2 separate regions of the Homo sapiens genome follow, and region 2 is linked to region 1. The links come from fine-mapping of genetic effects on gene expression. A gene starts in region 1. The other region holds a variant in brackets. All regions are shown on one strand. Distances are from middle to middle.

Region 1 (5,382 bases):
GCCCACCTCTCCAGGCCTAACCCAAGAGAAAGGAAAGGCAAGCTTTGTTTATCATTGCTCTCAGAAGCAGCCTTGCAAAGCCCATCTTCTGTTATGATGTACACTGATGTTTAATTGATCCGGACATCCTGATGCAGTTGTCTTTTTGGTAAAATAAAAAAGGCAGGGTAGGCCGGGCGTGGCGGCTCACGCCTGTAATCCCAGCACTTTGGGAGGCCAAGGTGGGTGGGTATCTTTAGGCCAGGATGCGAGTACAGCCTGGCAAACGGGGCAAAACCGTCTCTATTAAGAATACAAAATTAGCCAGGCTTGGTGGAACATGCCTGTAATCCCAGCTACTCAGGAGGCTGTGGCACGAGAATCGCTTGAACCCGGGAGGCAGAGGTTGCACTGAGCCAAGATCGTGCCACCGCACTCCAGCCTGGGTGATGGAGTGAGACTCTGTCTCAAAAATAAATAAATAAATAATAAAAAAACAAAATAAATAAAAGAGGCAGGGCAGTGAAATGGAAGGAGTTCAAGAGCCCAAATCCTAAAGTCTGAGTTCAATTCAAGATCAAACACACCAGCTACATGGCCTTGAGCAGGATACCTTTCTAAGTTTCTGTCTGACCACTTGTAGGGTGAGTACTAATGTTTACCCTATAGGACTGTTGTAAAGGTTAGAGATGAGGGAGGCTTAGTGAGGGCAGGGATACCATCTTTTGTGGTTTCTGGTATCCCAGGATTCAGCCCACGTAAAAATATTAATTTTATTAACTAATATAATTAAGGATTTTATATATAATCATCTATAATGATATATGATATATAATATATAACTAATATATATTGTATCAATACATCTAATTATATACTACTTATTATATACAGAAAACCATACATTTATAGATATAAAAATTCATCTTTGATTTCCACCTGGATTCTTTAGTGAACAACAACTAGACTAATAAAAGGGGTAGATTATATTCACAACAACAGATCATACAGGCTATGGAATACTGACTCTGTGTTTGTGGGTGGGGCATCAGTGTGTGCCCAGGAGGGTTTCTATGTAAATCTAAACACAGAAAACTCGCATGCTCCATAATAACGATTAGCAAAGCAGATGCCTTCAAAGTGATAGCAGACTCTTTAAGGAGGAGCCCCAGCCAAGAAGACCTCCGTTTTGTGGTGATAAGCAAATGAGAAAGGGAAATGAAGAGATGAGAATGCTGGCACACTGGATTCCATTAGCATAGAGGAAGAAGCACAGTCCCTTGGCATTAGAAGGAATGTCAGGGGTCACAGAAGCAATAATTCCTTCCACAATGCTCTTTTAAAGAGCCACAGGGCCAGGCAAGGTGGCTCATGCCTATAATCCCAGAACTCTGGGAGGCCAAAGTGGGCAGACTGCTTGAGGTCGGGAGTTGGAGACCAGCCTGGGCAACATGGTGAAACCCCATCTCTATAACAAATACAAAAATTAGCCAGGCATGGTGGTGCATGCCTGTAGTCCCAGCTACTTGGGAGGCTGAGGAAGGAAGATCACTTGAGCCCAGGAGATAGAGGCTGCAAAAAGCTGTGATCACAACAATGCACTCCAGCCTGGGTGACAGAGCAAGACCCTGACCCTGTTTCAAAAGAAAAAAAAAAAGTCATGGTTCCTGCCATGGTTCAAGCACTCACCCCTGGAAGATACTGAACTTGGTTTTGCTGAAATGAAGAGCTAGAAAGTTGTTTTGTTACTGAGCTACGCTCTATAATTAAGCTCGATAAATATTCTACCTGGTATATGGCAGCTCCTCAAATATTTAAAGAGCTACTGTGCCCTTCTCAGGTTAAACATCCCCAGGACCCCCTCATTCTGATAAAGGTATGACTTCACAGCTTCCCACCCCCAACCTCTTGTGACTTCCCAGATTTCACCTCAGCCACGTCTTCTCTTATACTTCTTCTGAAATGGCTGAAAAGCAAATAAAGACGCACAGAAGGATCCCACACTGAAGAATAGCACTTCTGGGCGCCTAAAATTACTATTGTAACCTTACTGTCAATTCAAGGAACAGCTGTAACAAGCAGCTGTCAGTCATAACATCTGGGTGTAGTTACACTAAGGTAGCCCAAAATCTCATTATAAAGCAATCTCACGCACAAGGGAGCTCCCCACAAAATGAAATCACAGAAAAATGCTGAAGATAATTTTAGCATATTGAGGAAACTGGTGCCCACATTGGACTCACTGCTTTAAAAGTGTTCCACATACATGTGTGTATGTTTCACAAAGTATGTTCCACAGAACATTAATTCTGTTGGCTATTAACAGAAAGAATTCCATTTTCAAATAAATGATAAGTTATCTGAAACTCTAGGCTCACATTTTTAAACAATTCCTTTGCTGAAAGTCTTTTCCAAGTCTTCACTATGCTTCTATGCATTATGCATACTGCAGAGAGAGAGAAGGATCACACAGGGCTGGGCAACAAAATATGTATTAATTGATGTATTTTCTGGGTGGAGCATTGCAAATAACACATTTTGGAAAATGCTGCATTAGCTCATCAATACTTGTGGGGCAGCACACACATCAGGGGAGGTCTGCTGCCTGGTAATCAGGTACCCTGCAACATCATCCATTGTGAGCACATAGGGTTACTAAGGGCACATAGGCACCCCGAGACAGAGATGTCTGGGCCTTGACCAATGAGATCTTCAGGAGTACTTCAGCAGCTGTTTCGGATTTTTCTCTGTGGATGTCCTCATGGGACTAAGTGGAAATTGGAAAAGTATCATCAAACTCTTCTTGAGATTCCTTTTTGATAAGGTAACTATCCTGGATTTGAATCTCAATTGTGTTCTCAAGTGGCAATTTCTTGCAGAAACTAACATAGCAGTACTATTGGGAAGCACTGTCTTGCAGGTATTGCAGCAGTACTGTGCTTGTGTGGGTCTTGGTCCCAAGTGGCCACCACAACTCAAGGAAGGTATGCAGGTCCACCAGAACAGACTGAAAGTGTCCACTCTTCCAGGGGCTCGTCTCACAATGGCACTTTCTGTGATGCTGCATCCTCATTCTCTCTACTTATGTTCTTCTTTGAGTTTGCTTTGTGAGGCTCCTCATAGCTGGTTTGGAAATGCTGGGGACTGTGGGGGCCCACACAGAAGACCAGGAACACTAATAATGTTCACATGAATATTATTATACTTCACAGATAAAATTGAGTGTCTAGTATCTGCTTGGCACTTTCACAAATGATTTCATTTAAACTTTAAGACAATCCTATTGGGCAGTATGTCTGCTTTCCCAATACAGAGGCTCAGAGAGGGTAGAGAAACAGAGCAAGGAGTAAAAGAGCTGACACTGATGGCTGGTTGCAAAGCCCCAGCCCAACTGCTACATTTCCTCAACCTTCAGGGGACAGCCTCTGGAATATTTTCTTTGGAATATTCTAGAAGGAATGCAGCCCACACAAACACAACCAGCATGCACCCACACAAACAGGACACCCCAACAGAACTATTATAAAGAGGCAGACAGACTCTGTCTTAAATTAAACTACATACTTGCTTTACTCTACCAAAAGTGAAATCTCCAAATAGTTATGCCAAAGTCACAAACATTTAATAAAGGGATGATGGTCAAGAACTTAGAGATCAAAGTAGCTGCAATGATGGACAAAGCAACAGTATTAGTAGTGCCAAGGTGCGTGAAGCTCTCAAACATGAATTTCATGGGAGGTCCCTGGGTGGGGATAGTACACTGGCAAGGACAGAACAGTAACACCTTAACAATGTGTATGGCTTTGCTAAGTTTTTAAAAAATTTCCAAAGTACTTTTTTTAATGTCTAATATTCTGGCACAAGGCATTTTTTTTAACTGCCAACTATTGATGGATCAATGGCAGGTTGCTGGAATTACAATTTCTTTTAAAATCTTAATGGCAAACAGCCCAAGTTGCTTCTAGCCATATTGCACTTCTGCATGAGAAGGGATTTGAAACCCTGGTACTTAATTATCCGTTTTCTTATAAAGAAAGTATATGAGAAAATACATTTGCATTAACTTTGGGGAGAGTCAACTACTCCCAGCAAGGGATGATTGTAAAGAATACTGAAAAGAGAAGAATGAATGAACAAGGTCATTTCCTGGTTTCTCCTCAATAATCCTTTGTAATTTTAATTGAAATAAATTCAGAGGCCATTAGATACTTCTGCATCCAAAAGTAAATGCAAGAGAAAAGTATCCAAATGACTTCATGGTTATCTGTAGTTTGGGATCATCTACATTTCTATTAATAAAAATAGCAGGGAGCCATACCAGAGTTTGCAGAAAATGCAGACTAAAAACACAATAAACATATCATTGGTGAAAATGTTTAAAATAAAAAAACTCTGCATTTTAGAGTGAAATATTATCTGAATGCATAATATATACAATAACTGCTCTACCATAAACTGCTTTTTCAAAACCAGAGTTCATCACAGAAACATGAGTTTAAAAAATTAATCATGCCAGGAACTGCACTGCCATAAAAGCAAGCCATTCTTTTCTGCTTATAAACAACAAAACTACCACATATGCAGATGCATGCCTCAGTACCTTGGTGCAATGGTGTATTTACTTGTGTAAATATTTAAAGTCAGACCTTTGAATTTATAATGAAGTAGTACACCACTTCACAAAATAAGGTACTAGTAAATTCAGATGTATGACAAGTAGAACTCTGTACAGAATACTAATTGCTGCTGTTCTTATTCTAAAAAGAAAAAAATAATGATATCGTTCAGATTCCACCTAAACAAGCCTAATACATGTGCAGAAATCTTAATAGGTCTTGATGAAGCCCGATTGGTACAATTTTTAAATTATCAGACAGGCTTTGTAACTGAGGCAAACGCAAGCTTCCTATCTGACATTTTTTTATTATCTGCTTATTTTAATATACATATGCAATTACTACAGGAAAGAAAACAGTAAAATCAGAAACATCTATAGTTTGCTGTGTAATGACCGGGTGTTCCCCAGGGAGATGGACCTTTTTACAGAGACGCAGGTGCTGAAAGGGCACATGATGGAGGATGTTACAGGTGTAAATATATAACATGGTGATGAAGAATTCAATAGACACGGTGATTTTCCACCTTAGTTTATGTTAACATAAGTATATATGTTCTGCTCTTAGGATTAATCTCCTGCTCCAGCATGCAGTAGCTGAATACATGTGCTCTTAGTGGGGTCCACAAACCACTGACCCAAAATGTTCCGCTTATATAATAATGCTAAATCTTGTGTCTGAAACTCTTAGGCAACCATAGCTTTACCTGTGATTGGGATATCTGCAGCCACATTTTCTTTCTTGCTCTTGTCTCCACAGCCACTTGAAACTTCTAAAAATTGAATGC
Region 2 (5,382 bases), 24 kb before region 1:
TATTGTCAGTAAAACTATTAATCAAATTATACCTTTAATTTAAGGTATAAGGGGTTTAAGGAGACAGGAGGTGAGAGAGCCCAAGCTGGGCAGGGGATATGCCACAGTGTTATGGTAGGAGGGCTAGATTTTTCCCGTGAGTTGGGTGTTGAAGGATGAATAGGAGCTCACTGGGCTGAGGAAAAGGAAAAGGAACTCCCTACAGAAGGAACAACATGGGCAAAGGTACAGAGGCATAGGTGTGCTACAGCTGAAAAAAGCTGACTGTGGCTTGACCCAAAGAGGCGACCTTGGGAGGAATAAGCTGGAGAGCAGGGCTGGGGCCTCCCAGGAATGGAGAAAGCTCAGACTCTACCCTGAAGGTACGGGGAGGCATTGGCCGTCCTTACACAGGAAGGTCGGGGGAAGCCAGGGTTTGGAGGCTGGTGGCCAGGTGGAGGAGCTGGGAGTTCCCAGGAGCTGGGAGGAACTGGGTATGAGGAAACCAGTTAGAGTTACTCCAAGAGCCTGTCCGGTCATGAGCAATGGGTGCTTCTGAGGATGAGGAGAGAGGCAAGAAACATTTCATTGGTAAAATACAGGGTGCTGATAATTAATTAGACATGGAGGCCAGGATCCCCTGCAAATTCATACTTGCAAATTACAATGCTCTGCCCCTGTGGTCCATGGCACCCGTGTGGTCCTGTCTGTGAAGAACTGAGCCTCCAGAAGCCCTCAGGTTCCACCCCAGGGACAGCTGCAATGGCAGTCCCTGTGAGCATGCCCGCTTCAGGACTCACATGAGGGTGCAAACAACAAATGCATGTCACAGAGTTTTTTGGTTAAAACAGAAAAAGAAAATCTAGTGTCCGATTATCTCTCTCACCATTAGATTTTAAATTGATCACGGGTTTCTTTTTGTTTTCATGCCTGCAAAATAAAGAAACAGTCTAAGTTCTGAAAAAGAAAAGACAATGAGACTAATATTTTCATAATGAACGCATTAGAGAAGAAGCACTTTGATTCACTGGAGGCCAGAACTTTACACTTACTTCCCAGAGTTTAAAAGTAAAGGGAAAATATCGGGATGCAGCGTGGCCTTGTCGGGAGGGTCGCTACTCAACAGCATTGCTCCCGTCCTGCGTGTGTCCCCTCGGCAGGTCTGCATGGCCCACCCCGCCCTGCTGAGCTGTGCCTGTGTGGGGCCACGTGTTCTTGGGGGAGGATGATCGCATGTTCCCCTGAGGCAGGGGACCGGTTTCCCTCAACAGTCTTCTGGAAGACAGTGATGCATCAAACTTCAGTGCTTTCAGGCAAGCTAAAAATGAAACACTTGCAGTAGGGAATTCAAGATGTTGGTAAGGAAGTTAAAATACTTAGTCAAACCAGTGGCAGCAATACTAACAGTTAAGAAAGGAGTTCAAAACAAACACCTGGTAGAGGGCCCTGCAAGTGTCACATAAATGCTAGTGTTCGTGGCGTCCAGGACCGTCTCGACTGAGGCCAATATGACAAGAAAACTGGCTCCACGGGATATGATTTCTCTGTGTGCCTTTTCAGGAGCTTTTGCAATTTTAATGAATTTAAAAGTCTCCTCAGGGAGTGTCACTCGAATGTTTTATGATGCTGAGATTCTTTCAGAATTGCCTGAATGGTCACAGGAGATGTTGGGAGAGAAACCATTCTTGGTGCATGGCTCGACACTTTGCCCTACCCCACGCACCACCACCGCCCTTCTCACAGCCAGGGCCTTGTTCTTCTGGACACAGGAAACCCTGCAAATATATCTTTTCCTTCCCTTTGGGCCAAGTGTGGTTGACTTTTGGCTTAAAAATCTACGTTTTGCTATAATTTACTTTTTTTTTTCAGAAAAACATGCTCCACTAAGGTATCATTTTCTAGGCTACCTTTCAGTGTTCCCTTTAAATTTAGTGCCTGTTTCTTTAATTGCCATGACTGAGTAGTGCTCACAGCCATTTCTCCATGAAGCATGGAAGACCCCTACGAGCATCTGGAAAGGCCAGCAGCTGACTGACAGTCCTGGAGCTGCCAGGATTGTGGGGACCTGTCAGTGAGGTGAGCCTGCAAGAACCCATTTTACAGAAAGTGACACACACATCACACACACACTAAATGCAACTGCAGGGATGTCTATTATTTCCCCACCTCCCCCTACCTGAGGACACTGGGCTAGGTGCTGCAGGGGAGGGTGGATTATAAAAATGCTAGGAGGGGTGGAAAGAGGCTAATTTGCCAGCCGCGGTCCATACAAGAAGAGCCACAGGGGGAGCAGGAGAGATCTCTGCCAGCTGGGTGGATGGAGAGCACTGTGGCAGGTGATTGGGGGAGCTGCAGGACCACAGAGGAAGCCCGGCACCTCCAAAGGCAGAGGCCTTCACAGGACAGGACTGGGGAACAAGGTGTGGCGGGGTGGGGCAGCAGGGAGCCCCTGACACAGGAGAAAGGACACAGTGGCAGGTGAGCTCAGCTCCTCCCGTCTCAGCAAATGGCACCCCTGACCCACTAGTCTCCCCAAGCCCCTCTCCAGTCTCCACTCCTCTTTCCTTCACATCCAGTCTGGCCCTCGGTCCTGCCAATTCCACCCCCACCCCTCTCGACCCCCCTGCAATACTTCCTGCAGTCCTCACCAGTTCCCTGGGCACTGCCAGTACACTGGTCAACAAAACTATCAGCTCTTGCTTCTCTCTCTGCAACAACCTCCTAACTGGTGACACACACTCATCTTGTCCCCTACTATCCATTTTCCACTAGGCAATGAGAGTGAGCTTTCTGAAATGCAAATCTGGTCGCTCCACTTCCT[C/T]GCTTAAAATTCTTCAATGCCTTTCCATTGATTTCTGCACAAAGACCTAAATCCCAAGCAGTGCCTCCAAGGTGGATCCCCCAGGAGTGTCGTGCTGTCCTGCTGGAGCCTTCCCACTTCTGACTCCCTATCTTTACCACTGAGTCCTCGTCAAGTTGCTGTTTCACATCCACTTGTGCAGCCAACTGACGTGCCAGTCCTCCCCCTCTGAACTGCAAGATCCATGCGGGTAGTGACCACACCTGTTTCAGCTCACCTGGGTAAGGCGGTGCACAGCACTTAACAGGTGCTTAATGAGTATGTTCACTTGGAATGAACAAGCGAACTTCACTAAGCATAGGGCCCTGCTTAAAGGCATTTGATCAATATTCAATTATATAATACTTGATTTACATATTTCTATTCAATATTGCACTTCAGAATCAAGTTTCTTTGGCTTCCCTGCTGGCAAAGAAAAAAAAATAAAAACCCAGAAAAGCTGAAGCAGAAAAAAAAAGGAAAAAGTCATGCACAAGGCTGTAAACACAGACACATGAGAACATCTATGCGAGTGTGTGTTAGTCGTCACTTAACTCATCAAAAGCAATCAGCCAGCAATGCTGAGTCCCACCACGGAGGTGACCCACTGAGCATTTCAGGGACCTCACTTCCGCATGTGGCACTCTAGGAAAAAATGATTTCCTGAAGCCATGTCTCTATGAGGCCACTTGAACTTGCTTTTTCTGTTTGTCCTGTGGTTACACAGTGTAGCTTTGAGAACATTTAAGCCACAGGGAGCCAGTAAACATCCCAGTGAAATGTGAATTAATTGTGTAATGCAGGGAGCCAGTAAACATCCTAGTGAAATGTGAATTAATTGTGTAATCGTTCTTAATTGTCTGTGTGATTGGTTTTCTCACAGGAAACATGTTTCAGAGCTAAATGTGCGTGGTGCGTGGCCTACCCACGGAGAAGGGCAGAGCGTACTTTCCAGTGTTTTGTTCTCCACTCTCGTATCTAAGGAGCAATTATTTTTCCTTTTGGGAAAATCTCTGAAAGTAAATGTGACCCTGCAATTCATAGTTGATTTTTTATTATACAGAATTCTTGGGGCCAACATTTTTTTCTCTAGGTCATACCTAATATGTAAAGCTAAGGCAAGGCTGATGGAGAAGCCTGAGAACTTTCTATTGTGTGCTGGATAGAGCCAACTACTTTGGCTACTAGAGTAGATGAAAGAAAAACAAAACTGCATTTCAGAAAGTAAAAGAAATCAAAGAGTTAAGGTTGTAGGCCATGAGATATGGTCACCATGTGGTCTTATGTGCTCAGAATCTAACTGTGTAATGTTTGCTGAGAGTGTAGAAGTAATGTTTCCATCTTGTAAGGCAGACGTTGGCAAAGGTTTTCTGTAAAGAACCAGGGAGTAAATAGTTCAGGCTTTGTGGGCCATATGGTCTGCCGCAACTACTCAACTGTGTTTGTAGCACAAAAACAGCCATGGACAATTTGTAAACTAAAAGATGTGGCTGTATTCCAATTAAACTTCACGTATAGACACGGAAATTTGAATTTCATATACCTTTCAGGTGTCACGAAACATTATTCTTTGAATTTTCTTCCAACCATTTAAAAATGTGAAAACCACTCTTAGCTTGCGGGCCGTATGGACTGAGGCAGTGGCCTGGGCACGGCCCAAGGGCCACCATTGTTGTAAAGAACTGCCTCACATGAGGCCCATGCTGCAAGCCAGAGAGCCTGCCTTTCCCCCGCACCATGGCTCAGGAGCGACTCTTGGAACCCCAGAGGGCAGACTTGGTATTTTTTCCCTAGAAGTTTACAACTGGACTGGAGGTCCTACTTCAAAATAAGCCATTTTCAGGCAAGACACTGCAGATGATTAACTGAGTAAATTAAAATATAACCATGTTCCGCCGGTCTCATTTGAATGGGACAATCGGCTGGGTGTGGTGGCATAAGCCCAGCACTTTGGGAGGCTGAGGCGGGTGATCACCTGAGGTCAGGAGTTCGAGATCAGCCTGGCCAACATGGTGAAACCCTGTCTCTACTAATAATACAAAAATTAGCCAGGCATGGTGCTATGTGCCTGTAATCCCAGCTACTTGGGAGGCTGAGGCAGAAGAATCGCTTGAACCTTGGAGGCAGAGGTTACAGTGAGCTGACATTGCACCACTGCACTCCAGCCTGGGTGACAGAGCGAGACACCGTCTCAAAAAAAAAATAGTTAATTAATTAGTTTTAATTAATTAAAAAGTAATGGGACAATTATCTCTGCAGAATTTCCCAGTAGCTTTGGTCATTTTTTCTCCCAGCTCTACCAGGAATGTCCCATTCCCATTAGGGAGATGCTCACTTGTTACCATTCTGCTGTACTGACTTCATCACATCTCTCCCCTCTGCCTAGCCATTAAGCCATCTTATTTTGGATGCATTTTGGTAACTGCTTATAAATTCCCCTGCTACTGATAAACCAGATTAGGACAATGCTAATCAAAGTCACTTGTGTTCTCAACCTTGTTAAACTTAAAAAGTTAGGGCCAGCCAGGACTTCAACAGAATAGGTTTTATCCGAGAGCAGCCCT

Which allele goes with the higher level. Alleles are on the strand shown, and positions count from the first base shown. SD is a standard deviation of normalised expression in the study named.
As copies of T replace C in region 2, the expression in subcutaneous fat of the gene that starts at base 2,661 in region 1 goes down (large effect, 0.86 SD a copy in GTEx).

What was found. PIP is the estimated chance that this variant, and not a neighbour inherited with it, causes the effect.
Region 2: its variant is the best candidate, but not a certain one, in a credible set for the expression of KIZ-AS1 in subcutaneous fat (GTEx, PIP 0.78).

The regions. Positions count from the first base shown.
Region 1 is chr20:21,215,568-21,220,949 of GRCh38, reverse strand. It overlaps KIZ-AS1 (KIZ antisense RNA 1), which reads left to right and starts at 2,661. Exons shown (of 8, transcript NR_109956.1): 1 at 2,661-2,803. It overlaps KIZ (kizuna centrosomal protein), which reads right to left. Exons shown (of 13, transcript NM_018474.6): 9 at 5,302-5,367.
Region 2 is chr20:21,239,772-21,245,153 of GRCh38, reverse strand. It overlaps KIZ (kizuna centrosomal protein), which reads right to left. Exons shown (of 13, transcript NM_018474.6): 12 at 866-909. Among named protein-coding and RNA genes, the nearest start is that of KIZ-AS1, 24 kb to the right of the region's middle. The variant C/T (reference allele first, on the strand shown) is at 2,801.